7 linked regions of the Homo sapiens genome follow. The protein of the gene in region 4 purifies or fractionates together with the protein of the main gene of each other region. This does not show direct contact. Each region holds a gene or a part of one and is shown on either strand. Other genes may lie near its edges.

Region 1 (3,500 bases), on a different chromosome or scaffold from region 4:
TTACCTGGAAAGATGGTTTAGATTCTGACAAGTTTTCACTAAATCATACTTGGTTTGTATTTTAAAGTCTAAAACATGACCAGTCCTCAAACTGTAACTGAGATCTACATTCTGAAGATGTGACTATGGTCAGTTTGCTGGTCCAGTCACCTTAGCTAATCAGACTGACCACTGAGGGAGCCTAGACACCTTGAGGGAAACAAAAAACCAATAGAACTATAGCCCCTCCCACTCCTCCTCCAACCAAAGTCAGAATGCCCATAATTACCGCCAGGGCGTCGCCTGATGATGAGTTTTCTGACTTCGTCATATACGAAGATGAGAAGAGAGTAGGGGAAGGCACAGAACCACCAGGTAGGTCTGGAAATAGAGTAAGGTACCAATTTATATGCACACGAACACAGTTCAAATAAAGAAAGAGAAATTGCACATCACCAGTGACAATGAAATAATCAGCCTGAAAGGAGAAGCCAAGTACAGTCACAGTTAACTACTGAGTCATTAACAGAACAAATAAAAATGTCTTAAAACAGATTGCTACTCCATGTGCCCAGGGCCTAGAGACGCAGAGGAAATCAGTCTGCAGACTTTGTAATGGAATCCCTACTCATCTTCAGTTTGGATTTCATAAGACTTGGTTTATAGGATGAGCAGAGTACTTTTCTGTTAACCATCCCAGAGCAACTGAACATTTTCTTTCTTTCATTTCTAAAGTGTTTAAGAAGCTTTTTAAGACCATCTGCCTAATATCCCAGCATTTTGAAGATAAAGACCTGCCAGTGTGGGTCAAAACCAGTTTATGCATTCCCCAAATTTGATCTCTGACAACAGCATTTGGGATATCAGCTCTGTGTTCTGAGGCCTGGTCCTGGGGACTGAAAAAAGCTGAGCCCGAAGGCTTCCAAGGGGCCTGGAGGCTGAGCCACACAGTCTCTAGCCTGCTGACAGGCTCCAGGCAGCCTCCGTGATCACCAGCTCCCTGCTATGGTGTGAGAAAGGCTGTCCCTGGGCAGGACTCCGGTGGTCTCCTCTTCTTCCTGTGTGTCTGACAAGGCAGCTAAGAGAGATGATCTCATTTGACTCAGTCACCGAATAACTGAACCACCTTCCAAAATTGGGCAGAACCTGTCAGAACAATCTCTTTGGTGGTGGCAAAAAAACCAGGGAAGGACCCAGAAGATGGAAATGCCCCCTTTTCAGTGTAATTTTCCACCAGCCTTTTTGGAAAGCTCTGTGACCTCTCCAAGCCCCATCTTGATACATAATGGCCCAAGCTGACAGAATTCAATTTGGAGATGGCTGGCCCCTGCTGTACACCAGCTTTGTGTAGGGAGCTGGGGATGCACAGAGAAGAAAGACACTGTGGCCCATGCCTTCTAGATTAAAACCTAGCAGGGAGGTGAAATGACAAGCAACAAGTAATGCCAGAGAAGAGGTGCAAGTGCACAGGCCCTGGAGGGACAAGCTCCAAGGAAACCGGCCCTGAAGGGACTATCAGGATTGGCAGGGTAAGAGGGAACAGAAGGAGGGATGTGGGGAGGAAGGATCTTACCAAACACAAAGGCAGAGGAAGAAAGCCGAATTCACCTAACATGAGCTTGGATGGGTAAGGGGTACAAGAGAAAGCTATAAAGACAGGTTGGGACAATGAGACTGACTCTGGATGCCAGTCTCATCTTGCACCACAGACGATGTCTGCACATAACCCACAGGAAGTGAATGAGGCTGATGGGTTTTGGTTACTTTAGGGATAAGATGAGCTGAAGGAAGTGCTGGCAACAGGGGATTGAGAGATGGTCCAGACGGGTCTGAGCAAGGATGAGGACAGCAGGAATTCAAAGGAGACTAATGCTTTAAATCAAAAGCTTCAAAGGAACTTGTAAATGGGTCCCACAATCTGTGGCTTTGCACGTTTTAATCAAGTTGCAGTTGCTTAACCTCAACCAGGTATCACCAAACATACTCAATGTTGCAAAAAACTAACGGAGTTTGTGATAAACCCTCTTTGAAAATTCAAGTTTATCTGAAATGCAGAGTCATTCACTGTGTTTAAGGCCAAAGACTAGCAGTATGCTTCCTTTGATCAACTCTACCCATGACTGATTATAAAGTAAAAGGGACCTCAGATCTGTTTCTCCAACCTTCTTTCTTTGAGAGCAGAGTATTCAGAGTCTCAGAAAGGTGGATGACTTGTAATGGGACAGTGACTAAGCAAGCAAATCAAGATTTGAGCCTGGGCGCCTACGCTCCAGCATACCCCCAGTTGGCCTCTAAAGACAACTGGACTACAGCTGTGGCAGACCTGAGTGCTCAATGCAGTTCGCTGTTGAGCAGTTCCATGGAGCTAGAGCCTGTGTGGCTTTATCTTATCTTGGGCCAAATCCTAAACACTAGCTGCTATCATGGAAGCCTCAGGATTTGTTAGTCTGATTTACTGACATGTCAAGCTTTCACAGTTTTCCAACCCATAGGAATTTTTGTACATACCACTCAAAATTCTGAAAATAACAACTATTACCACAAGTAATGGGGGGAAAAGCCACACATACTATTTCATACTTTTTGGAGCTACCAGAGGATCAACTTACTTGAGGGGATACATCCTAAGAGCAACACCCATTCCAGGGCAGTAGGAAAGGAAAGCAGCCAGGGCTGTCTCTTCAAAGAGGCCAAATATCAAGATCTTGTTCCTAAAATCAAAGTAGGGGAGAAAAAACTTAAAAGGTGCAAATAAAGGTTTATCTTCTAATGCTATGCATTAAAATGGCAGATCAACATCTTTATGTATTAGCTGTACTTGAAAACTTGGAGGTCAGATGAAAAAACTAGAAAGCTACATTTCTTGCTTCCTAAATTTGCTCTATAAACTAGAGATTCCAGAAACCTGGCTATATGTGTCATATGTTTAGTTTTTGGCAAAGGGTTTACAAATCACCAGTCCCCTTCTTTGAGCCAAGGCCTTGACATGTCCTTCATTACTTACTTCATCCCCTGCTGGAAGACCGAATTCCTCCTGGTCTTACAGATGACCAAGTCGGCCCACTGCACCACCACGATACTGACGAAGAAGGCTGTGTGGCAGGTGAACTCCACGATTTTCCTCTGCTCATAGGTCTGAAATGCAGAAGACAGAAGATGAGCTCTGGCTCTTCACCTGCATGGCTGGTGGCAGTGTGGCCTCAGTCTTCTGGGGCTTGAGGAGCTCTGACACTGGTCAGGTCAGAGGTGCCCACTCACCCACTGCTGCCCGTAGCTGTCTTCCACATCGTTGATCCAGCGGTCATCCCAGTCCACTCGGAGGCCCAACAGGTGAATTGGGAGGAAGCCGTTCTCAGCCAGAATCACAAAGTAAGTAAAGAAGCCTCCCAGGGCCTGGATCATTCCTAAGTTGGGAAAACAACCCAATTACTAGAACCTCACACACAAGGGTACCTGTATAGCCTTCAGCTGATTACTGCAGCAGGCCTGGGAGAGCACATATGGAGGAGTGTTTCCCCCTG
Region 2 (3,500 bases), on a different chromosome or scaffold from region 4:
TCTAGGCGGGAGGAAAGGCACTGAGTCCTGGGACAGTGTGGTGCCCTGTCCTCCCTCTGCCCCTCACAGATGAGCTCCCACCAAGCCACCACACTCCCCTCTGCTAAGACCCCACCCCAGCATCCCAAGGGCCCTGGCAGGAGGCACATACCCAGGATGTGGGGCAGAGGGACTGGTACACACGCTGGTACCATTCGCACACAGAGATATCGCCTCCTTTAGCGGTCATTGCCTTCTGACAGCGGTGGAAGTCTGTGAAGAAAGGGGTTCAAGTCAGCCCAGATCAAGAGTTGGAACACATTTTTTTTTTTTTTTGAGGTAGGGTCTCAATCTGTCACTCAGGCTGGAGTGCAGTGGTGCGATCTCAGCTCACTGCAACCTCTACCTCCTCCTGGGTTCAAGTGATTCTCCTGCCTCAGCCTCTCAAGTAGCTGGGATTACAGGCACCTGCCACCATGCCCAGCTAATTTTTGTATTTTTAGTAGAGACAGGGTTTCGCCATGTTGGCCAGGCTGGTCTTGATCTGCCCACCTCGGCCTCCCAAAGTGCTAGGATTACAGGCGTGAGCCACTGCACCCAGCAAAATTACATTTATAAAGATGTTTACAGCCACACCATTTGTAAGAACTCCAAAATGGAAATCACACAAGTGTACAGGCATAGAATAAATTGTAGAAAACTGGACAGCAATGAAAATGAGCAAGCTATATGCCACAGCATGTATGGATCTGAGAAGGTACTGAATGAAAAAATCCAAACACAAAAGAATACACACAGTATGTATAAAGTTCACAAAGAGGTGAATCTAAACACGGTGGTAGCCGGGCATGGTGGCTCAGGCCTGTAATCCCAGCACTTTGGGAAGCTAAGGCAGGTGGATCACTTGAGGGTAGGAGTTCGAGACCAGCCTGGACAACATGGTGAAGCCCTGTCTCTATTAAAAATACAAAAAAGTGGCTGGACCTAGTGGCTCATGCCTGTAATCCCAGCACTTTGGGAGGCCGAGGCAGGCAGATCACGAGGTCAGGAGATAGAGACCACGGTGAAACCCCATCTCTACTAAAAATACAAAAAATTAGCTGGGCGCGGTGGCGGGCACCTGTAGTCCCAGCTACTCGGGAGGCTGAGGCAGGAGAATGGTGTGAACCCAGGAGGCGGAGCTTGCAGGGAGCCGAGATCACGCCACTGCACTCCAGCCTGGGCGACAGAGCGAGACTCCATCTCAAAAAAAAAAAAAAAATACAAAAAATTGGCCAGGCACGGTGGCTCACGCCTGTAATCTCAGCACTTTGGGAGGCCGAGGCAGGCAGATCATGAGGTCAGGAGATCGAGACCAGCCTGGCCAACATGGTGAAATCCTGTCTCTACTAAAAACACAAAAAATTAGCCGGGCATGGTGGCACGCGCCTGTAGTCCCAGCTACTCAGGAAGCTGAGGCAGGAGAATTGCTTAAACCCGGGAGGCGGAGGTTGCAGTGAGCCAAGGTTGTACCACTGCACTCCAGCCTGGGCAACAGAGCGAGACTCTGTCTCAAATAAATAAATAAAATTGGCCAGGCATGGTGGCTTACACCTGTAATCTCAGCACTTTGGGAGGCTGAGGGGGGTGGATCACGAGGTCAGGAGTTTAAGACCAGCCTGGCCAAGATGGTAAAACCCTGTCTCTACTAAAAATACAAAAAAAAAAAATTAGCCAGGCATGGTGGCAGGCGACTGTAATCCCAGCTACTCGGCAGGCTGAGGCAGAGAAGTGCTTGAAGCTGGGAGGCGGAGGTTGCAGTGAGTCGAGATTGCACCACTGCACTCCAACCTGGGCGACAAAGCGAGACTCCGTCTCAAAAAAAAAAAAAAAAAAAAATTAGCTGGGTGTGGTGGCGAGCGCCTGTATTCCCAGCTACTCAGGAGGCTGAGGCAGGAGAATCACTTGAACCCGGGAGGCAGAGGTTGCAATGAGCTGAGATCGTGCCATTGCACTCCAACTTGGGCAACAAGAAACAGACTCCATCAATAACATAACAACATAACATATATAAAATAAAATAAAATAATAAACATGGTGGTAAAAAACAAAGATGTGAGGCCGGGCACAGTGGCTCACGCCTGTAATTCCAGCACTTTGGGAGGCTGAGGTGGGTGGATCACCTGAGGTCAGGAGTTCAAGATCAGCCTGATCAACATGGTGAAACCTTGTCTTTACTAAAAAAAAAAAAAAATACAAAAAATTAGCTGGGCATGGTGGCGGGTGCCTGTAATCCCAGCTACTAGTGAGGCTGAGACAGGAGAATTGCTTGAACCCAGCAGGCAGAAGAGGTTGCAGTGAGCCGAGATCGTGACATTGCACTCCAGCCTGGGCAACGAAAACAAAAAACTCAGTCTCAAAAACAAAAACCAAAACCAAAAACAAAGATGTGATAACCCCCAGTTAGTGGCGTCACTTCTCTACTGGGGAGAGCGGGGTGCTGTGTTCCAGACAGGACATAAAGAAGGTGGGGAGGCCAGGCGCGGTGGCTCATGCCTGTAATCCCAGCATTTTGGGAGGCCGAGGCGGGTGGATCACCTGAGGTCAGGAGTTTGAGACCAGCCTGACCAACATGGAGAAACCCCGTCTCTACTAAAAATACAAAAAATTAGCTGGGTGTGGTGGCAGGTGCCTGTAATCCCAGCTACTTGGGGGACTGAGGCAGGAGAATTGCTTGAACCTGGGAGGCGGAGGTTGCAGTGAGCCAAGATTGCACCATTGCACTCCAGCCTGGGCAACAAGAGCAAAACTCCATCTCAAAAAAAAAAAAAAGAAGGCAGGGAGATGAGAGTGTGGGCAATGTCTGCTTTTCTCTCCAGGTTATGGTTGCACAAGGGGTTCACTTTAGAATTATTCATTTAGCTGTACATGTTTGTTATGTGCTTTCTGTACATGTTACAGTACGCACACACATACAGCTTAAAAAAAAATCATTGTAGGGGCCAGGCACGGTGGCTCACACCTATAATCCCAACACTTTGAGAAGCTGAGGCAGGAAGAGCGCATGAAGCCAAGAGTTTGAGACCAGCCTGGGCAACAAACTGAGACCTCTTCTCTACAAAAAAATTAGCCAAGTACAGTAGTGTGGGCCTGTGGTCCCAGCTACTCGAGAGGCTGAGGTAGGGGGACCTCTTGAGCCCAGGAGGTTGAGGCTGCAGTGAGCTATGATTGCACCACTGCACTCCAGCCTAGGTGACAAAGTGAGACCCCATCTCTGGAAAAAAACAAAACCAAACCATAATAATAATAAAAAATTTAAATTAAAAAAAAAATCATTGCAGGAACTAAAGTTTGTAACCCTAGCCTGGACCTGAACAGCAGGTGATGAGAGGCATGGGCCTTCCAGAGTAAGGATGTTCAGAATAAAAGGGAGGAGGCTGGGGTGGATGGGTCCCCTAGGAAGAGGCAAGCGGTGAGTGACTCGAGGTATGTGGCCAGGGAAAGGTCCTGCTTACCCAGGTAGTTCTGCCAGCAGTTTCTAG
Region 3 (3,500 bases), on a different chromosome or scaffold from region 4:
GTAACACAGCAAGTAGTTAAACTGGGTTAAGTGATTAACCCAGGTTGAGTATGGTTCCAAAATCTCTTACAGTGTCAGGCAGGCTACATCAGTGCAGTATACGTACATCAGGTTTCACGAAAAATTTTTTCCAGAGAAAACACAAACCCAAGGAACCTTCAGTAAGTGGTGCCTTATATTAGTGGTTTTTAGCAAAAGGAAGAAACTTAAGTGTTTTCCTGCTGCCTGACAAAAGTGAAAAACAGTATTTTGGTTTTTATTGAAGTTAGCATGTATGTTTGTAGCTTGCATAAAATAGTACTGAAATCCAATTGATTATGAATTCTTGGACTAACAGAACCTGGATGACAAATTAGAGGTTCTGGCCTGGTTGCTGGCTTTTTTAGTTGTCTTGGGTGTAAATTTCTCAGCCACACGTGGGGATTGTGTTAGATAATCTGAAATCTAATTTTCATGGTTTTATGATTCAGCAGCTTTCTTCCTTTGATATTTTCTAGTATTTGCTTTATTATAGATTGGAATCCTCAAAATAACATTGACAAGTAGAAGATACTTCTGTTAGTGGATTTAAAAAAAAATTACATTGGGAATGTCCTTTGAGTGGTTGGCCCTAATCCCTGTCAGAAGCTGAAAGTTGTGGATCCTAAATTCATCTGGGCAGAATCTCACCTATGATTTCAGAAAGCTGAGAGTTTCAGAGAGTGACTGTAGTCAGTCCTTAGTGAGTACAAAATTGAGAATACATCATTACTTTAAATTAATGGTGCAGTAACTCTTGTGACTGATAGCAATAATTTAGGTGCTTTGTTGTTAGTACTTGATTAGATTGGATTGGGTCAGTTAGTTTCACCAAATTGCTAAAGACACCTGTCCCCCTAGAATTAAAATACTGAGTTACATAATGGCTACTAAAAGGATAACTATATGGGGTGTTCGATGATTCAAAGGTGAATTACTTGGTCTCTACCTTCAAGGAATATGATACAAGGCAATATGGTACTGCCATTAGACAGATATTAACAAAGTGTCTTGGGACTTAATAGGGAGGGTAGTTCCAGGCTGGGAGATGTAGTCAGATTCTTTTATAGAGTTGGCATTTGAGTTGGCCCGTGAAGGTTGGAAAAAGTTGTGACAGGTGGAAAAGGAGCAGGGGAGACCAGGACAGTGCAGTGAAATTCCAGCCAGGAGCAGTCACAGGCAATGAGACAGACTCATGGAGCCATGATTCTCAGCTGTCTTACCTTACCTTAGTTTTCCTAAGGAATATCATGGAATTCTGTAAAGACCTTTAAACTAAATAATGTTCATATGAGATGAGTGCTAGGATGGGGACCTGCTGCCTAATATAAGTAGTGTGAGTCTAAAACATTGTGGAAAGTGGTTAGTTTAATAATGTTATTAAAGAGACAAGTCTATCACAAGGGACCAGTTACCAGTGAAACTGTAGACCACCTGATTCACTGCGATAGGGTTAGCCAAAGGGAGGAGAGGGCAGATTGCATACATAGTACCTAAGGCCACTCAAAGACCTCTTTTAAAATCACGTGTCATGTTGATGACATTTGGAGGCTATTAATGTTTTTCTTCCCTTTTAAGACTTAGTGTTTTCTTTATTAGCATTAATTTACTCTAGTAAACAAAATTATGTGTGACTAAAAATGGCAAAACAGGCTGGGCGCAGTGGCTCACGCCTGTAATCCTAACACTTTGGGAGGCCAAGGCGGGTGGATCACTAGGTCAGGAGATCGAGACCATCCTGGCCAACATGGTGAAACCCCGTCTCTACTAAAATACAAAAAATTACCTGGGCGTGGTGGTGCACGCCTGTAGTCCCAGCTATGTGGGAGGCTGAGGCAGGGGAATCGCTTGAACCCAGGAGGTGAAGGTTGCAGTGAGCCAAGATGGCGCCACCGCACTCCAGCCTGGTGACAGAGCGAGACTGTCTCAAAAAAAAAAAAAAAAAAGCAAAACATCTAAAACTTCTGTTATATTCTAGTGTGTAAAGTTCTGCCTTTGCCACTGAGATGCATATCTGTTTTACAGAATAGTTTTTTTTCTTTCTTTCTTTCTTTGAAGACGGAGTCTTGCTCTGTCACCCAGGTTGGAGTGTGGTGGCCCAGTCTCAGCTCACTGCAACCTCCACCTCCCGGGTTCAAGCGATTCTCCTGCCTCAGCCTCTCGAGTAGCTAGGACTACAGGCGCGTTACCACCACGCCTGGGTAATTTTTTTATTTTAGTAGATTTGGGGTTTCACCATGTTGGCCAGGATGGTCTTGATTTCCTGACCTCATGATCCGCCTGCCTCCCAAAGTGCTGAGATTACAGGCGTGAGCCACCACGCCTGCCCTAATTTTGTGTTTTTAGTAGAGATGGAGTTTCACTGTGTTGGTCAGGCTGATGTCCAACTCCTGACCTCAGGTGATCCTCCTGCCTTGGCGTCCCAAAGTGCTGGGATTACAGGTGTGAGCCACTGTGCCCATCCTTGTTTTGTATTTTCTAAAAGAGATGTATCTTGTTTAAATATTAAATTATAAGATATTCAGGCCTTGCAAATTGTCTGGATTACACTGTAAAAGTAATCATTTATGTGCAAATAATTCCTTGAGATCAATAGTTAAATGAGCTCAAGCTGATCTGACTAAATTGGAGAAGATACAAAATGAAGATGGGGAGGAAGTGGTGCCATAAGCAGCCTTTTTTCTTTGACCATTTTATATGCCTTTTTTTTTTTTTTTTTGAGATGGAGTTTCACTCTTGTAACCCACGTTGGAGTGCAATTGCTTGGCTTGCAACAACCTCCACCTCCCGGGTTCAAGAGATTATCCTGCCTCCGCCTCCTGAGTAGCTGGGATTATAGGCATGAGCCACCAAGCCTGGCTAATTTTGCATTTTTAGTAGAGACGGGGTTTCTCCTTCTTGGTGAGGCTGGTCTCGAACTCCCAACCTCAGGTGAACCATCCTCGTCGGCCTCCCAAAGTGCTGGGATTACAGGTGTGAGCCACCGTGCCCTGCCCGCCATTCGTTTTTTTTTTTTTTTTTTTTTTTTTAATTCTGACTCTTCTGTGGTGGAAACCAGCAAATACTTCACATAATTTAGGATGCTAATACTAGTACAGTTAAAAGAATGATTACAAAGCAGATACTATTTCAAATTCTGTAAAAATCTGTTTTTAATATCCTTCACTGGCTGTTTGTTCTGACTAGAAATGTTTTGTATATCTGAAAGCACCAGTAACTCATAGCCATATAATTTTTTTGGTAATATGTTCATAGGCAAGTGGCAAGAGTTAGTAGAAAGATTTCTCTAAGAATTTATCCTAAATCAGATTACACAGAGTTGGGGTAAGTGAGTATTGTGTTATTTTCTTTTGTATATTTGACAATGGGAACTTTTTGAAACTCAACTTCAGTGTAATTTTAAGTCACTAAATTTGTCCACAAGTTAATGATTAAACAGTTACTGAAAGTGGAGAACCTTGCCATTTTTCGGACTGCGTTTT
Region 4 (3,500 bases):
CTTTGCATTTTAGAAGATGAGGTTTCAGGCTGGCTTCACCAGCCGCTGGACAGAGTTTCCATGTAGGACACCTGGTGTACCATCATTCCAGGGCCCTTGCCCTTAATTTATCCTAGCATGTGAGAAGTGTAGTTTGACATCCATTCATTTATTCATCTCACAAGTATTTATTGAGTACCTACTTATTAGAGCTAATCTCAAATTATGTGCAATCATTACTCTGAGTTATGCCATAGGATGGAGTAGATCTACAGTGATCTAACCTGAAAAGGCATTTTGAAATCTTAATTGCCTGCTGGAACCTCCCCCTGGCACTGCTTCCCATGGGCCAGTGTGGCTGTGCACACCCACACCCTCCCTACTGGGGAAAGACCCCAGCATTAGGCGATTTTACCTAAAAGTCGGTCCCACAGCACAGGCTCTGAAGCAGAACAGAAAGTGCCCGGGTCTGCAGGCAGACACGCTTCTGTTCCTGGCTGCAGCTCCAACCAGCTCTGTGAAATTGGGCGAGTCATTTCACCTCTGTTCCTCCATTTCCTCATTTCTAAAATGGGGATGAGGACCTGACCCTTCCACCTTTGTGCAGTTATTATGAGGATTTCCGTATTTACTTGGGTCAAGCTGCCAATTTTTCTCAGCAGTTATATCGACAATGCAGGTGCACTGGCTAGGAAGAATAATTGCCTAATTTGGGGCCTTCAGAATGTGTCTTTTGATCTTGCATCCAAGTGTGCGTACTGAGACAGGGTGGGCAGCAGGGGCCAGTTGGAAGGAGTGGAAACTGTCACTAATGTAAACAGACTGTCCCCACGTTCTGTCTTCTCCGGGGACCAACCTGTTCACAGAAATCACTATCATGTACTTACTGTTGGTGGTGTAATGTTGTCCTCTGCCTGGGGAGGTGGAAGAGTGGTGTGCCAAGGCCACCAGTCTTAAGTCAGACTACCTTGGGTTCAAGTCCTGGCTCTACGAGTTAGCAGCTGTGTGATGTTAGGCAGGTTACTTGACCTCTCTGTTTCAGTGTTCTTTTCAGTAAAACGGGAAGGTAGTAACCACCTCATTGACATTAAACAGCGCCTGGGGATTGCCAATCACGAAGGTGGTGGTGATTGGCAGGAAACCTGTGACATCACTTAGCCCCTTGCCTTCCTTGATCCCTTTTCAAAAACCTGTGTTTGTGCACACACCCCTTCCCCTTGCAGTTCCCCCCCACCTGCCTCCTCTCCTCCCTTTCTCGCTTTCTTTTTTCTATTTTAGATTTTAAAGTACAGTAGAGACCTCGACACTAGACTTGTTTAGAAGACCTCACTGAGTGGATAATAATAAATTATTTGAAGATGGTACTAATAAGGTCTCTGGAGTACACATGATGGGCCAGGCTAAGGTTAGGGGCAATAACTTTTCCTTAGGAAGTTTGGTTTACTAGGTCTCCCTTAGAGTTAGGCCCTTCATCCCTATTACTTGTTTAAGGGAGATTTCAAGTGCATTCAGAGGGAAAGGGAGATGATTGTGGAACTCCTACTATAAGCTAAGTGCTCTTATGTTAGCTCCTTAGGCTTGACATAAAAACTTCATTCAGGGAACAAGCCCGATCTCCTGTGGGGAGTGGGGAGGGAGCCCTCTCAGGAAGGCTGAGGCCTGCCTGTCTGTCCTTCCCAGTACTGGTGGCGGTGTGGGACGCACCACTGGGAAAGCTAAGAGGCCTAGACTATCTAGGTAAGAAGAGGCGGCCTTGGATCCCCCAGGGAGCAATCAGCTGGCTGCACAGAGTGGGGAGGGCCTTGAGCTGGTCTTTGAAGAATTAGGGGGATTTAGATAAGCCGGAAGGGGAGGGGGCATTCCATTGCCGGTTGCCCAGCATCAGGGCCAAAAATGAACAAAGGCCTGGGGGTGGGCAGGGCAGCCGGCATGAAGGGCACTTGTTGGAGCAGGGGGCAGCTCGTGGGTAACGGGGTGCCAAGCATGGGTGCCTGAGCCCACTGTCAGACCCGGGGAGTGCACGGGAGGGAAGGTTGTGAGCTGGAGAAGGATGGGATGAGAAGAGATCTGTGAAAAACGTGGGTGGCAAGGGGTGAGGGCTGGACTGGAGAGGCTGAGGGAGACCAGTGGTGGAAAAGCTGCAGCAATGCAGGTGGGAGGCGCTGAGGGCCTGGCCCCCAAGGCAGGAGGGGAGAGCAAAGGAGGTGAGGAAGGCTTCAGAGATGGCCTCTAGGTTTCCATGGTGAAGGACCAGAAAATAAGGCCAATGGGAGGCGGGGAGGGGGCAGCCTTAGAGGCAGGAACAAGGAGGGGTAGGGTTGGTTTGGGCCACGTTGATAGCAGTGGTTCAAAATGCTTTTCTCTTTCTTTTCTGCTTATTTTTAAAGGGAGAGGGTAGGCTTCGCTCATGGTTTTGTATCCAAAGTTTCAGTGGCTCTCTGGGAGGAACTTCAGTGGAGAATCCTCAGGAGCAGAGGAATGATCACAGCCCCATGGTTCCTTCTGGTTATTTTTAAGATTCTAACCATCCCTGTTCAGGCCGGAATTTCCAGGAACTGGCTGCTGCCCAGCGCCAACTGGTCCCTCCCAACCTCCCACTCCCTGCAGGGTGGGGCCCCATGGGTGGAGGCTCCTTAGGGTGGAGTTGGGTGGGTCTCCAGTGATAGGGAGGGCACTGAGCAGAGGCAGATGAGAGGCAGTGTGGCCTCACGCAGCCCTTCTGGATTTGATTATATAACACTTCATAGAGGAGAATTGTGAGGGCTTAGGCGAGGCCTTGTGAGATATGTACACAGCAGGATTAGACATTATGGGTATTTTTCAATTTATCTTGGGTTGCCTGCCCTTAAAACTAAAACACAAAATTGTCAGAGAGCATAAACAAGTGTGTAACCCTAGTAGGGAAAATGATTCGAGTTTGCTGCAGTTTCTCTAAGAAGGGTGTGGAATGCCACTAGCCAGATGGCCTTGAACTTAGAGGGTAGCATAGGTGTGGGTGTCCCCGCCCCCAGCCCTGCTTTGCTAGGCCTCAGTTTGGAAACTTGTCAGGCTTCTGCTTGGTTGTTACCTTTGCACCTGTCCTTATTGACATGCAAAATCAATTGCTTCACTTGGTCTTTCCGAAGTACAGGGTGTGGGCAGAATCTTATCTGAAGCCATGTCCTGTTTGGACAAGTTGGACTTGCCTTGGCAACTCTCCATAGGGTGGAGCAGATGGGTGGAGGCAGGAAAGTAAAATTGGGTGGCTTGTTAGCAGAGAGAGGAGAGAGGGTGGGTTGTTTGCTCACTGGATCATTATATTTCATCTGAAATGAAATAATTAACTTCTTTCCCATTTATAATACACATTAATGCAAAATAACTAATTCATGAGGGGCGAAGATTTAGAAACACCCCATGGAATTTTTCTCCTTTTCAAACCAGTCATAGAAGAGTAGGACAGGTGAAAATCACAGAGTGGCATGAAAATTTCCAAGAATGTCTAGGTAGGAAATTCCAGGTAGGTGCCAGTGCTTAGCTTT
Region 5 (3,500 bases), on a different chromosome or scaffold from region 4:
AACGCCCTGGCAGGGACTTTCCCGAGGATGCTTACTTTGTAGAGATGTCCTTGCCCGTTTGGTACGCTTGTGCTTTCATGATTCTCTCCATGTTGCCAGACCATCCGTACTGGCTGGCCACCAAAGCACACGGAGATTCTGTCAGGCGCTGAGACACCACAGCCTTTTCAATCTTAGGGAAAGAAATCAAGTCATATAAATTAATATCAACAGGTAAGGTCATTGAGCAATTGTCTTTCAACTGTCTAAGACTTTATCACTTAAGATCATAAACACAGAAGCAGGTCATAAAAATAGCTTTTCTTAAGGTTTAGGAGAATTTGTAGGGGCACTTACTTGATAATCTGAATTTTCTAGTCAGAAGTTTAAATACCACCTTTTAAAAACATAAAATTTAATTTGTAACAAGTTATTAACAAAGCAGTATTGTCGAAAGTTTTAAGCTTTCTCCCAATAATTTAATTACATTAATTAAATTTTTACCATTCTAATGGTTACAAAGTAACCAGCTGCAGCTTAATTTGTTCACAAAATAACTTTCTCTTAAATGCTGATACTAATATTTCCACAATTTGTAATTTCCACAGTACCTTGTCCTTAAGGGCTTTATCTTTCATCCAATTCAGCAGAGGCTCAAATTCTTTCTCAACTGCTTCACGACTCTCCTTAGTTTTCTCACTTTCATCGAACTTCACTCCTTCCTTGGCAACATTCTGGAACCTCTTCCCATCAAATTCGGGAAGGGCCTGAATACAGTATTCATCCACAGGTTCTGTGAGGTAAATAACTTCATAGCCCTTTTTCAGAAGTCGCTCAACAAATGGAGAAGATTCAGCCTACAAAATTAAGAAGTCACAAAGTTTTCCAAGTCTGGCCCTGGTGTATTTGTTTATCCTAGCAGCTGCTATGTTTATACATTATTAAAAACTCCATTTTACAGGTGAAGAATTAAGAGGTTCAGAGAATATAAATGACCTTCCTGTCAGTGACTGACCAGGCCTTATAACTACTCCAGTTACACAATTAAGTTTTCCTTTTCTCCCCCTCAAGAGTTGGCTATAAATCCCTAGCTACCTTCCAGAATGGCTGACAACACTTATGAGTTCATCTCACCTCTTTTCTGCTGGACCCAGCCATGAAGTAGATTTTGTCTTGTTTTTCCTTCATTCTTTCCACATACTGGTCTAGGCTAGTAATGTCAGTTGGATGATGAGAAGACTGGAACCTAAGAAGTTTAGCAAGACGTGTTCGATTCGAGTGGTCTTCAATCACACCAAGCTTGATGTTGGTACCAAATTCTTTCCAAAAAGTATCATTGTATTTATCATCAGCAATCTTCTTGATCATGTCCAGCGTTTTACGAACAAGCTTCTTCCTAATCACCTAAACACAATGAAAGAATAACTGATTAGAGAAGTTAATCTCCAACTTTTGAGAATGTAAGGTACCCAGGCAGGAGTGTGAAAAACACAAAGACGATATCGTTATTGCCATTTATTGAGGGGCAGGAAATGGTGAAGCACTCCAATTCATTCAGATTGGGCTGAAATTCAGCTGTCCGTGCAAATAGCCACAAGATTGCCTTAATGTTTATATTCTAACCTTAGGACTCAGTGATACTCTCTCTCTAGCATCTAAATGAAGTGAACAAATATGCTACTTTCAAATACTTTTAAATTCAAAAACTAAAGAGTCTTCTAATTATGGAAGTATTGGAGGGGAAAGGTTTAATGAAAGGCTTGATAAAAAGGTGGCTATGTGTCTAGATGACAAAATGTTAATCCTGGACCTGTACAATTCTTTAATTTTTTTCTAGATGTTTGAAACTTCATTATTAAATGTTGGGAGAAAAAGAATCAGATTCTTAGGATCTGATAACTCCAGAAAGAAAGGAAATTCATCTGAAGAATCATGGACCAGACCCAAAATCTGGTTTTACTCCACAAATGGAGCCTGTCCTCTGAACCCCAATCAAACAGCAAAGTGGAGAGTTTCTTCCCAGAGACACTTACCTTAAGCAGTTTATGTTGCTGAAGAGTCTCGCGGGAAACATTCAAGGGGAGATCATCTGAGTCCACCTTCAGATGGCAAAAGAAAGTTCAGTGAGCAATAAAACCACTGGAAGAAAGCAAAGCCAAACAAACACTCTACACTGCCAGACCCCCACAACAATCACCCCTTCTCCCAAACTTCAGATACTTACCACACCCTTGACAAAATTGAGGTATTTAGGCATCATATCATGGAAGTCGTCTGTGATGAATACACGGCGCACATAGAGCTAAAGAGACCAAAAAAAAGTCACTTTCTGGAAATTAAACTTTCAAATTTTAAACGCAGCATGTACTACTTAAAAACTCACCTTAATGTAATCGCTCTTTTTAGATCCATATTCGTCAAACAGACCACGTGGAGCAGATGTGGGTACAAATAAAATTGATTTGAAGGTAACTTCCCCTTCAGCAGTAAAGTGAATATAAGCCATGGGGTCATCACTTTCCTGTGGAAAGTTGGTATCTTAGTCATTCAAACGACACAGGAGAAAAGCAGTGCAAGAACTAAGCAATGTACTATGTGGTACATATTCAGTTTAGCAATTAACTAACAAAAAATTTTCCTTTACTGGCGGGAGGTGGGGAAGAGAAAGAAAAGGGTGGGGGGAAGAGAAAGAAAAGGGTGGAGTGAAGAAATATCTAGAATTGCAATTCTAATTCACTAGACATGGTTGTTTTGATGATGATTGTCAATAACATTATTTCCTAAACTCTCAGAAGGAAGGATGAGTTTATACTTCTTACGTATGAGAGAAGTGAATAGGAAAACCACCACCCTGCCTAAATGACAAAATTACATACAACACTTCAGTGTGCCCTTGAACTACAGTAAGTACTCAAGAACATGTTTCTTCCATGGAACTTAGCTCTAAGAGTGGCTACAAAGATGTATGTAAATACCTGTAAAACAAAGTTGGAAATTCTCTTGATCTGCATTATCTATTACTGTATATGGCTGTTAAGCACTGAAATGTAGCTAGTTCAAATTCAGATGTGCTATTAAAGTGTAAAATACATTTTGAAGGCACAGTACAAATTTTAAAAAGGATATAAAATGTCTCATTATTAGTTTTTATATTGATTATGTTGAAATAATACTATTTGGGGTATGCTGGGTTAAATAAATTATACTATTAACATTTCATGGTTCCTTTTTTTGTATGGCTTCTAAAAAATTTCAAATCATGTGTGGCTCACATTAATTATATTTCTAATACAGCTGCTTTATATGAAGTAAGTTTATAGACACTAGGACTTTAGAGTTTATGGAAATAAAAGTGAAGGCAGAACCAACAGTGTTTTAAGAGTTGAAATTTAAAGGATATGGAATAGAGAAAAGAACAAATACAGACACAGAATATTAAGTTTTATTTAGCTATGGTTAAGTCCACTAGAGCATTCTACTGCTTGTACTAAATGCTGCTGGGGAAACATTAACTTTAAACA
Region 6 (3,500 bases), on a different chromosome or scaffold from region 4:
GGCTACCAAGATCAATAACAAGGATGACACCAGTCCAAGGTTGACAGGCAGTTGCTAGGCAGATTTTCTCACGAGAGAAGTTTTTTGGTGCAAGGTTGCAGTGGCCTTTGTGTAAGGTTGTAGTTTTTGTAAAAAGGAAAAAAAAAAACCCTTAATCCTTGTTATCAGACATACAAGGGTGAGACCCTTCTCTTCAGGGTTGCATTTTTGTTAACACTAGTGACTCCATTTTGATTTTGACAACTTGCACATATCTTAGTTGTTGGGTTTTTTTTGTTTGTTTTTTGTTTTGTTTTTTTTTTTTTTTTTGACAATGGTGACTTGCTCTGTCACCCAGGCTGGGGTGCAGTGGCCCGATCATGGCTCACTGCAGCCTCAAGCAGTCCTCCCCCTTCAGCCTCCAAACTGTTTGGATTATAGGCAAGAGCTACTTACTACACCTGGCCATGGATCTTCTTGTGTCAACTTTGAGACCAAATTTACTGCAGTGCTTAAAATGTTTTAAGAAGTTATACACATGTGCTGGATGTGGTAGCTCACGCCTGTAATCCTGTAGCAGGACAAGCCGCAGACAAATCCCCTCAGACACCGAGTTAAAGAAGGAAGGGCTTTATTTGGCTGGGAGCTTTGGCAAGACTCACGTCTCCAAAAACTGAGCTCCCCGAGTGAGCAATTCCTGACCTTTTTAAGGGCTTACAACTAAGGGAGTCTGCGTGAGAGGGTCGTGATCAATTGGGCAAGCAGGGGGTACGTGACTGGGGGTTGCATGCACCGGTAATTAGAACAGAACAGAACAGGACGGGATTTTCACAGTGCTTTTCTATACAATGTCTGGAATCTATAGATAACATAACTGGTTAGGTCAGGGCTCGATCTTTAACCAGGACCAGGGTGCGGCAGCGCTGGGCTGTCCACCTCTGCCTTTTAGTTTTTACTTCTTCTTTCTTTGGAGGCAGAAATTGGGCATAAGACAATATGAGGGGTGGTCTCCTCCCTTAATCCCAGCACTTTGGGAGGCCAAGGAAGGCGGATTACGAAGTCAGGAGTTTGAGACTAGCCTGACCAAAATGGTGAAACCCCGTCTCTGCTAAAAATACAAAAATTAGTCGGACATAGTGGCGTGTGCCTGTAACCCCAGCTACTCAGGAGGCTGAGGCAGGAGAATCGCTTGAACCTGGGAGGCAGAGGTTGCAGTGAGCTGAGATGGAGCCACTGCACTGCAGCTTGGGTGACAGAGCAAGACCCTGTCTCAAAAAAAAAAGTTATACACATGTAATTATTGCATGTTCCTTCATTATTAGTTTTAACATAGACTTGTTAATCTCAATTAGCTTAATTAGCATTTGAGTTTATTGCTAAAACTTCTTTATGAGTTTTAATAATGAGGCTTGGCCGAGTGTGGTGGGTCATACCTGTAATCCCAGCATTTGGGAGGCCAAGGCGGGTAGATCACTTGAGGTCAGGAGTTCAAGACCAGCCTGGCCAACATGGTTAAACCCCATCTCTACTAAAAATACAAAAAAATTAGCTGGGCATGGTGGCACATGCCTATAATCCCAGCTGCTCAGGAGGCTGAGGTGGAAGAATCGCTTGAACCCAGGGGGCAGAGGTTGCAGTGAGCCGAGATCGTGCCATTGCACTCTAGCCTGGGCAACAGAGCAAGATCGTCTAACAACAACAAAAAAAAAACCAAGGCTGAATTTCTTGAGTGATTGAGCAGTGGCTATCTATTGGACAGTCCAGCTGAACAGTATTTTCCTCAGGCTGGGTGCAGTAACTCACACCTATAATTCCGGCACATTGGGTGGCTGAGGTGGGCAGATCACTTGAGGCCAGGAGTGAGACCAGCCTGGGTAACGTGCCTAGACTATATCTCTACAAAAAATTTTTTAAATTAAGTGGCCCAGTGGCCAGCTGTAGTCCCAACTCCTTGGGAGGCTGAGGCAGGGGGGTCACTTGAGCTAGGAGCTTAAGGCTGTGGGGAGCCATGATTGCATCACCACGCTCCAGCCTGGGTGACAGAGTGACCTCGTCTCAAGGCTGCAGGGAGCCATGATTGCATCACTGCACTCCAGCCTGGGTGACAGAGAGAGGCCTCGTCTCAAGGCTGCGGGGAGCTGTGATTGCATCACTGCACTCTAGCCTGGGTGACAGAGTGACCTCGTCTCAAGGCTAGAGGGAGCCATGATTGCATCACTGCACTCCAGCCTGGGTGACAGAGAGAGACCTCGTCTCAAGGCTGCAGGGAGTCATGATTGCATCGCTGCACTCTAGCCTGGGTGACAGAGACCTTGTCTCAAGGCTGCGGGGAGTCATGATTGCATTGCTGCACTCTAGCCTGGGTGACAGAGAGACCTTGTCTCAAGGCTGTGGGGAGTCGTGATTGCATCACTGCACTCTAGCCTGGGTGACAGAGAGACCTCGTCTCAAGGTATGTTTCATGTATCTTCTCTTTTTTCATTGATAAAGGCCCAAACTTCCCAGAGAGAAAAACATACAGCCTTAAGGAATTTGGCTAGAAGTCTATTCAGGGCATATGATACGATAGAACAGGGATTCTGTAGAACCTGGAAGAAAGTAGTCACTCTAGGAGTAGGTTAGCTTGAGAGAAGTAGCAAGAATGTACTTAAAGCAGCAGATAATGAGATAGAATTGGGGTAAATTGCGGTAGGAATATGTTAGAAGCAAGGGTGGAACTGTCGTCACTGTTACCTCGATGGCGAAGCCAGAATGTGAGGCTCTTGCTCTTAGAACTCACGTGAGTACCATAGCCTCGCGTTGTCTTGCAGGACACAGATTATCCTTATTTGGGTACCACCATGGACACCTATAAGGAACTGATTGAGAGGATTCCTGAGTTGAACAAAGTGGCACGAGCAGCTGCAGAGGTCGCTGGTCAGTTCGTGATTAAACTAACCCATGATGTTGAATTGAACCTGGACTATGAGAGGTACAACAGCCAACTGCTTTCATTTGTGAGGGATCTGAACCAATACAGAGCAGACATAAAGGTGAGCACTGATTCCAATTACGTTTTTATTTTGCTGAATGTCAAGTATTTTGAAATGTGATGTGTTCCTGTGTGTTCCTGTTGGAAGGGTGATTGTAGCCATAGTACATTTTAAAGTGAACTGAGGTATAATTGTATGTAGAATTGGTAACTTGTTTGAGAGAAGTCGGGAGGCTGTGGATTAGAGACCTAGGACAGAGCTCAGCAGGTGTTTCAGAATCCAGAGCAGTGTCAGGTTTTCTGTCACTCATGTCTCCCAGGCAGCCCGTCAGTAGGACACGGAATATGAAGATCTCAGCAAGGAGTTGGGCTGTGTGCCTCTCGGGCGTGACCCGGATGGAAAGACAGCACAGCTAGCAGGATTCCATCTCGTAGTGATCTGCGCATCTAAAAGTCAAATATTCTATTAAACGAAACTGATAAGCAGGGTGAGGTGGTGCATACCCGTAGCCCCAGCTACTTCTGCTGAGGCAGGAGGATTGCTGGAGTC
Region 7 (3,500 bases), on a different chromosome or scaffold from region 4:
GCACTATTGCATTCCAGCCTGGGCAACAAGAGCAAAACTCTGTCTCAAAAAAAAAAAAAAAAAATTCAGACAGCCACCAGCGGCTACACTGTCCTGGGCAGCTCAGCATTGGGGCATTCCCTGTGAGAATCTTGCAACAGGGGGAAGACAGCGACCAAACTTACAAATGTGATTAGAACTGGCAAGACCCCTTAGGGGCAGCGAACTTGTTCTTTTTTTTTTTTTTTTTTTTTTTTTTTGAGATGGAGCCTCTGTCGCCCAGGCTGGAGTGCAGTGGCGTGATCTCGGCTCACCGCAAGCTCCACCTCCCGGGTTCACACCATTCTCCTGCCTCAGCCTCCCCAGTAGCTGGGACTACAGGTGCCCGCCACCACACCCGGCTAATTTTTTGTGTATTTTTTAGTAGAGACGGGGTTTCACCGTGTTAGCCAGGATGGTCTGGATCTCCTGACCTCGTGATCCGCCCGCCTTAGCATCCCAAAGTGCTGGGGTTACAGGCGTGAGCCACTGTGCCCAGCTGAACTTATTCTTAAAGCAAGTGCCCCGGACCTCCAGTGGGCCTGTTCTGGTGCCTTCTACCAGGGTCAGCTCAGACAGTTCAGCGTCAAAGCCAAAGACTAGAGACCAGGTGATTACGGTTTCTTTGGAGACAGAGTCTCACCCTGTCACTCAGACTGGAGTGCACTGGCGCAATCTTGGCTCATGGCAACCTCCGCCTCCTGGGTTCAAGTGATTCTCCTGCCTCGGCCTCCTTAGTAGCTGGGATTACAGTCACCCACCAAAGTACCTGGCTAATTTTTTTTTTTTTTTTGGTATTTTTAGTGGAGATGGGGTTTCACCGTGTTGGCCAGGCTGGTCTTGAGCTCCTGGCCTCAAGTGACCCACCTAACTCTGCCTCCCAAAGTGTTGGTGTTACAGGTGTGAGCCACCGCGCCCGGCCAAGACCAGGTGATTAAAATTTGGTTGTAGGCAGGTGCAGTTGCTTATGCCCGTGGTCCCAGCTACTCCGGAAAATGAGCGGGGAGGATCGCTTGAGCCCAAGAATTCAAGGCTGCAGTGAGTCATGATTGCAGCCCTGCACGCCAGCCTGGGTGACAGAGCAAGACTTGGTCTTTTTTTTTTTTTTTTTTTTTTGAGACAGAGTCTCGCTCTTTCGCCCAGGTTGGAGTGCAGTGGCGCGATCTCGGCTCACTGCAAGCTCCATCTCCTGGGTTCACGCCATTCTCCTGCCTCAGCCTCCCGAGTAGCTGGGACTACAGGCGCCCGCCATCACGCCCGCCTAATTTTTGTATTTTTTGGTAGAGACGGGGTTTCACTGTGTTAGCCAGGAGGGTCTCGATCTCCTGACCTCATGATCCACCCGCCTCGGCCTCCCAAAGTGCTTGGATTACAGGCGTGAGCCACCACGCCCGGCCAAGACTTGGTCTCTTAAAAAATGGAGGAAAGAAAACACAGTCTCTTTTTTTCCCCTGAGATAGCTTATCCTAAGGACAAGGCTCTGAGGGGTAAGGAGACAGGGTTTGGTTTTAGTTTTGACTCTCTTGGTCCTGTGTCCCTGGGACTGGTGAGTCCACCAGGGACTGCACTCCTCCATCTCCCAGGCCGTCCGTGGCCAGGGCCAGTTGGCGGAGGGGAGGGAGTTGATGGAGCTGGTGGGTGGGGCTCCCAGGGCCATGCTCCCACCCAGCCCACCCCCTGCTGGAGCACTGCTGGGCCCCAGCGACCCTGCCCCATACTTGGCAGGCCCTGACTGCAGAGATCGTGAAGACCATCCGGGACATCATTGCCTTGAACCCTCTCTACAGGTGGGCCTCTGTGCGGGCAGCTGGCCAGGCGGGGGCATCTCTGCAGCTCTTTCTGCAGCTGGGTGGGTAGGGGGCTTCCTCAGCGTCCTCCTGGGAGGAAACCTTGCCTGCCCCAAGGAGTGGCCTGTGTGGAGGAGCCCGTTGCCCACTGGGGCATGGGGCAGGTGGGAGGCCCGGGGCCGACTCAGCAGGCCCAGTTTCTTTGTCCCCTTCTGCTGAGGCCGGAAGCTGTTGGTGGCATTGGCTGGGGGAGTGGGGAGCAGACTGCTGAGGTGAGGTCACTGCACGGCTCCCGTGGTGGCTGCACGTGAGGATGCTGCATGCCTTTCCAGCCCAGGACGGGTGGGCCCTGAACTCTGGAGAACAAGCAGCAGAGCTGGCTCCCAGCGAGCACCCCTAGACCGTGCCCATAGCTACAGGGGACAGGGACCCTGAGGACCGGGTCCCCGTTTGGGGGCTGCACTGCAGCAGAGCGTGAGGCCCTGGCCACCGAGGCAGCTCCCTTTGTCCCCCAGGGAGTCAGTGCTGCAGATGATGCAGGCTGGCCAGCGGGTGGTGGACAACCCCATCTACCTGAGCGACATGGGCGCCGCGCTCACCGGGGCCGAGTCCCATGAGCTGCAGGACGTCCTGGAAGAGACCAATGTGAGTGCTCGTCACCTCCACAGCCCCCCACGCCTGGCTGCACCCCACCTCCACTATGCTCCGCCCACGCCCGGCTGCCCCCGTTCCTCCTCAGCTCCCCCATGCCTGGCTGCCCTTGTCCCTCCACCGTGCACCATCCACACCCAGCTGTGTGTCCCTGGCTCTGTTTTTGAGATGATTTCCCGCTGCGTGTCTTGGTCCACATCCATCCGCCTTTCGGTGGCTTCATAGCCTTCGGTTGGGAGTCACCGTTGCGGGTTCAGTGGGATCCTCTGGGCCGTGTACCCGGGGCGTTGCCAGTCTTTTGCTGTTGTGAGCAGCACTCCTGAGCGCGTCCCCATGCACGCAGCTGGAGGGCCTGTGAAGTATCCGTAGGATGCGTTTCCAGCACGGGATTTGTTGGGGCAGAGGGCACACATGCCTCTGTGCTGGGTACAGCATGGCCAGGTCCTCCCGGCAGCATCTCTCAGGGTGCGCATTTTCCCCCAACCTCGGCCCTACACACACAGATGCCGACTTCTGCTCATCCTTTCTGTCCTCCCTGTCTCGGCAGATTCCTAAGCGGCTGTACAAGGCCCTCTCCCTGCTGAAGAAGGAATTTGAACTGAGCAAGCTGCAGCAGCGCCTGGGGCGGGAGGTGAGCCCGCGGCTGAGGCGCAGCCACTCTTGGGGGCCTTCCCCTCGGGCCACGTGACATCAGTCAGGCTCTGGAGCACACGGAGGGACCGGTGGCATCGGCCAGGGCAAGCCAAGAAGGCCTGTCTGGGTTTTGAGGGCTTCGTGCCATCATCTGCTCTGTCGTCCTGGGCTGTGGAACTCTCCGCGTTGAACAGGGAAGCTTAAAGCTGGTCCCAGTGTAATGAGCCCAGGGTGGAGCAGTCTCAGGACCGTCCAACATTAAGGGAAGAATTCCTTTGCCTTTGTAATCTTGGGGACAGTGTTGGAAATTGGAAAGCAGCCTGGGAAAAGTGAAGATGCTGTTTCTTAAGACCCAGCCATTGAGGCTCGCTGTCATGATTTTCGGCAGATCACAGCCTGCCTGATGGCCGG

The links.
Region 1: the proteins of KLF3 (region 4) and ATP1A1 purify together in Homo sapiens (affinity purification with mass spectrometry, with the first as the bait; one large-scale study listed by BioGRID). This does not show direct contact.
Region 2: the proteins of KLF3 (region 4) and COX6B1 purify together in Homo sapiens (affinity purification with mass spectrometry, with the first as the bait; one large-scale study listed by BioGRID). This does not show direct contact.
Region 3: the proteins of KLF3 (region 4) and CNBP purify together in Homo sapiens (affinity purification with mass spectrometry; one large-scale study listed by BioGRID and IntAct). This does not show direct contact.
Region 5: the proteins of KLF3 (region 4) and HSP90B1 purify together in Homo sapiens (affinity purification with mass spectrometry, with the first as the bait; one large-scale study listed by BioGRID). This does not show direct contact.
Region 6: the proteins of KLF3 (region 4) and TFRC purify together in Homo sapiens (affinity purification with mass spectrometry, with the first as the bait; one large-scale study listed by BioGRID). This does not show direct contact.
Region 7: the proteins of KLF3 (region 4) and LONP1 purify together in Homo sapiens (affinity purification with mass spectrometry, with the first as the bait; one large-scale study listed by BioGRID). This does not show direct contact.

What each region holds. Positions count from the first base shown.
Region 1 is NC_000001.11:116,400,744-116,404,243, reverse strand, and holds part of ATP1A1 (sodium/potassium-transporting ATPase subunit alpha-1), read right to left. Parts: intron 3,384-3,500; coding exon 3,238-3,383; exon of another isoform or gene 3,115-3,237; coding exon 2,984-3,114; intron 2,691-2,983; coding exon 2,589-2,690; intron 361-2,588; coding exon 269-360; intron 1-268. UniProt on the Homo sapiens protein: This is the catalytic component of the active enzyme, which catalyzes the hydrolysis of ATP coupled with the exchange of sodium and potassium ions across the plasma membrane.
Region 2 is NC_000019.10:35,651,323-35,654,822, reverse strand, and holds part of COX6B1 (cytochrome c oxidase subunit 6B1), read right to left. Parts: coding exon 3,474-3,500; intron 253-3,473; coding exon 152-252; intron 1-151. UniProt on the Homo sapiens protein: Component of the cytochrome c oxidase, the last enzyme in the mitochondrial electron transport chain which drives oxidative phosphorylation.
Region 3 is NC_000003.12:129,173,897-129,177,396, reverse strand, and holds part of CNBP (CCHC-type zinc finger nucleic acid binding protein), read left to right. Parts: intron 1-3,500. UniProt on the Homo sapiens protein: Single-stranded DNA-binding protein that preferentially binds to the sterol regulatory element (SRE) sequence 5'-GTGCGGTG-3', and thereby mediates transcriptional repression. Has a role as transactivator of the Myc promoter.
Region 4 is NC_000004.12:38,670,699-38,674,198, forward strand, and holds part of KLF3 (Krueppel-like factor 3), read left to right. Parts: intron 1-3,500. UniProt on the Homo sapiens protein: Binds to the CACCC box of erythroid cell-expressed genes. May play a role in hematopoiesis.
Region 5 is NC_000012.12:103,940,410-103,943,909, reverse strand, and holds part of HSP90B1 (endoplasmin precursor), read right to left. Parts: intron 2,501-3,500; coding exon 2,363-2,500; intron 2,282-2,362; coding exon 2,204-2,281; intron 2,079-2,203; coding exon 2,013-2,078; intron 1,384-2,012; coding exon 1,114-1,383; intron 837-1,113; coding exon 591-836; intron 173-590; coding exon 36-172; intron 1-35.
Region 6 is NC_000003.12:196,054,591-196,058,090, reverse strand, and holds part of TFRC (transferrin receptor protein 1), read left to right. Parts: intron 1-2,789; coding exon 2,790-3,011; intron 3,012-3,500. UniProt on the Homo sapiens protein: Cellular uptake of iron occurs via receptor-mediated endocytosis of ligand-occupied transferrin receptor into specialized endosomes. Endosomal acidification leads to iron release.
Region 7 is NC_000019.10:5,706,647-5,710,146, reverse strand, and holds part of LONP1 (lon protease homolog, mitochondrial isoform 1 precursor), read left to right. Parts: intron 1-1,743; coding exon 1,744-1,805; intron 1,806-2,320; coding exon 2,321-2,450; intron 2,451-3,003; coding exon 3,004-3,087; intron 3,088-3,500. UniProt on the Homo sapiens protein: ATP-dependent serine protease that mediates the selective degradation of misfolded, unassembled or oxidatively damaged polypeptides as well as certain short-lived regulatory proteins in the mitochondrial matrix.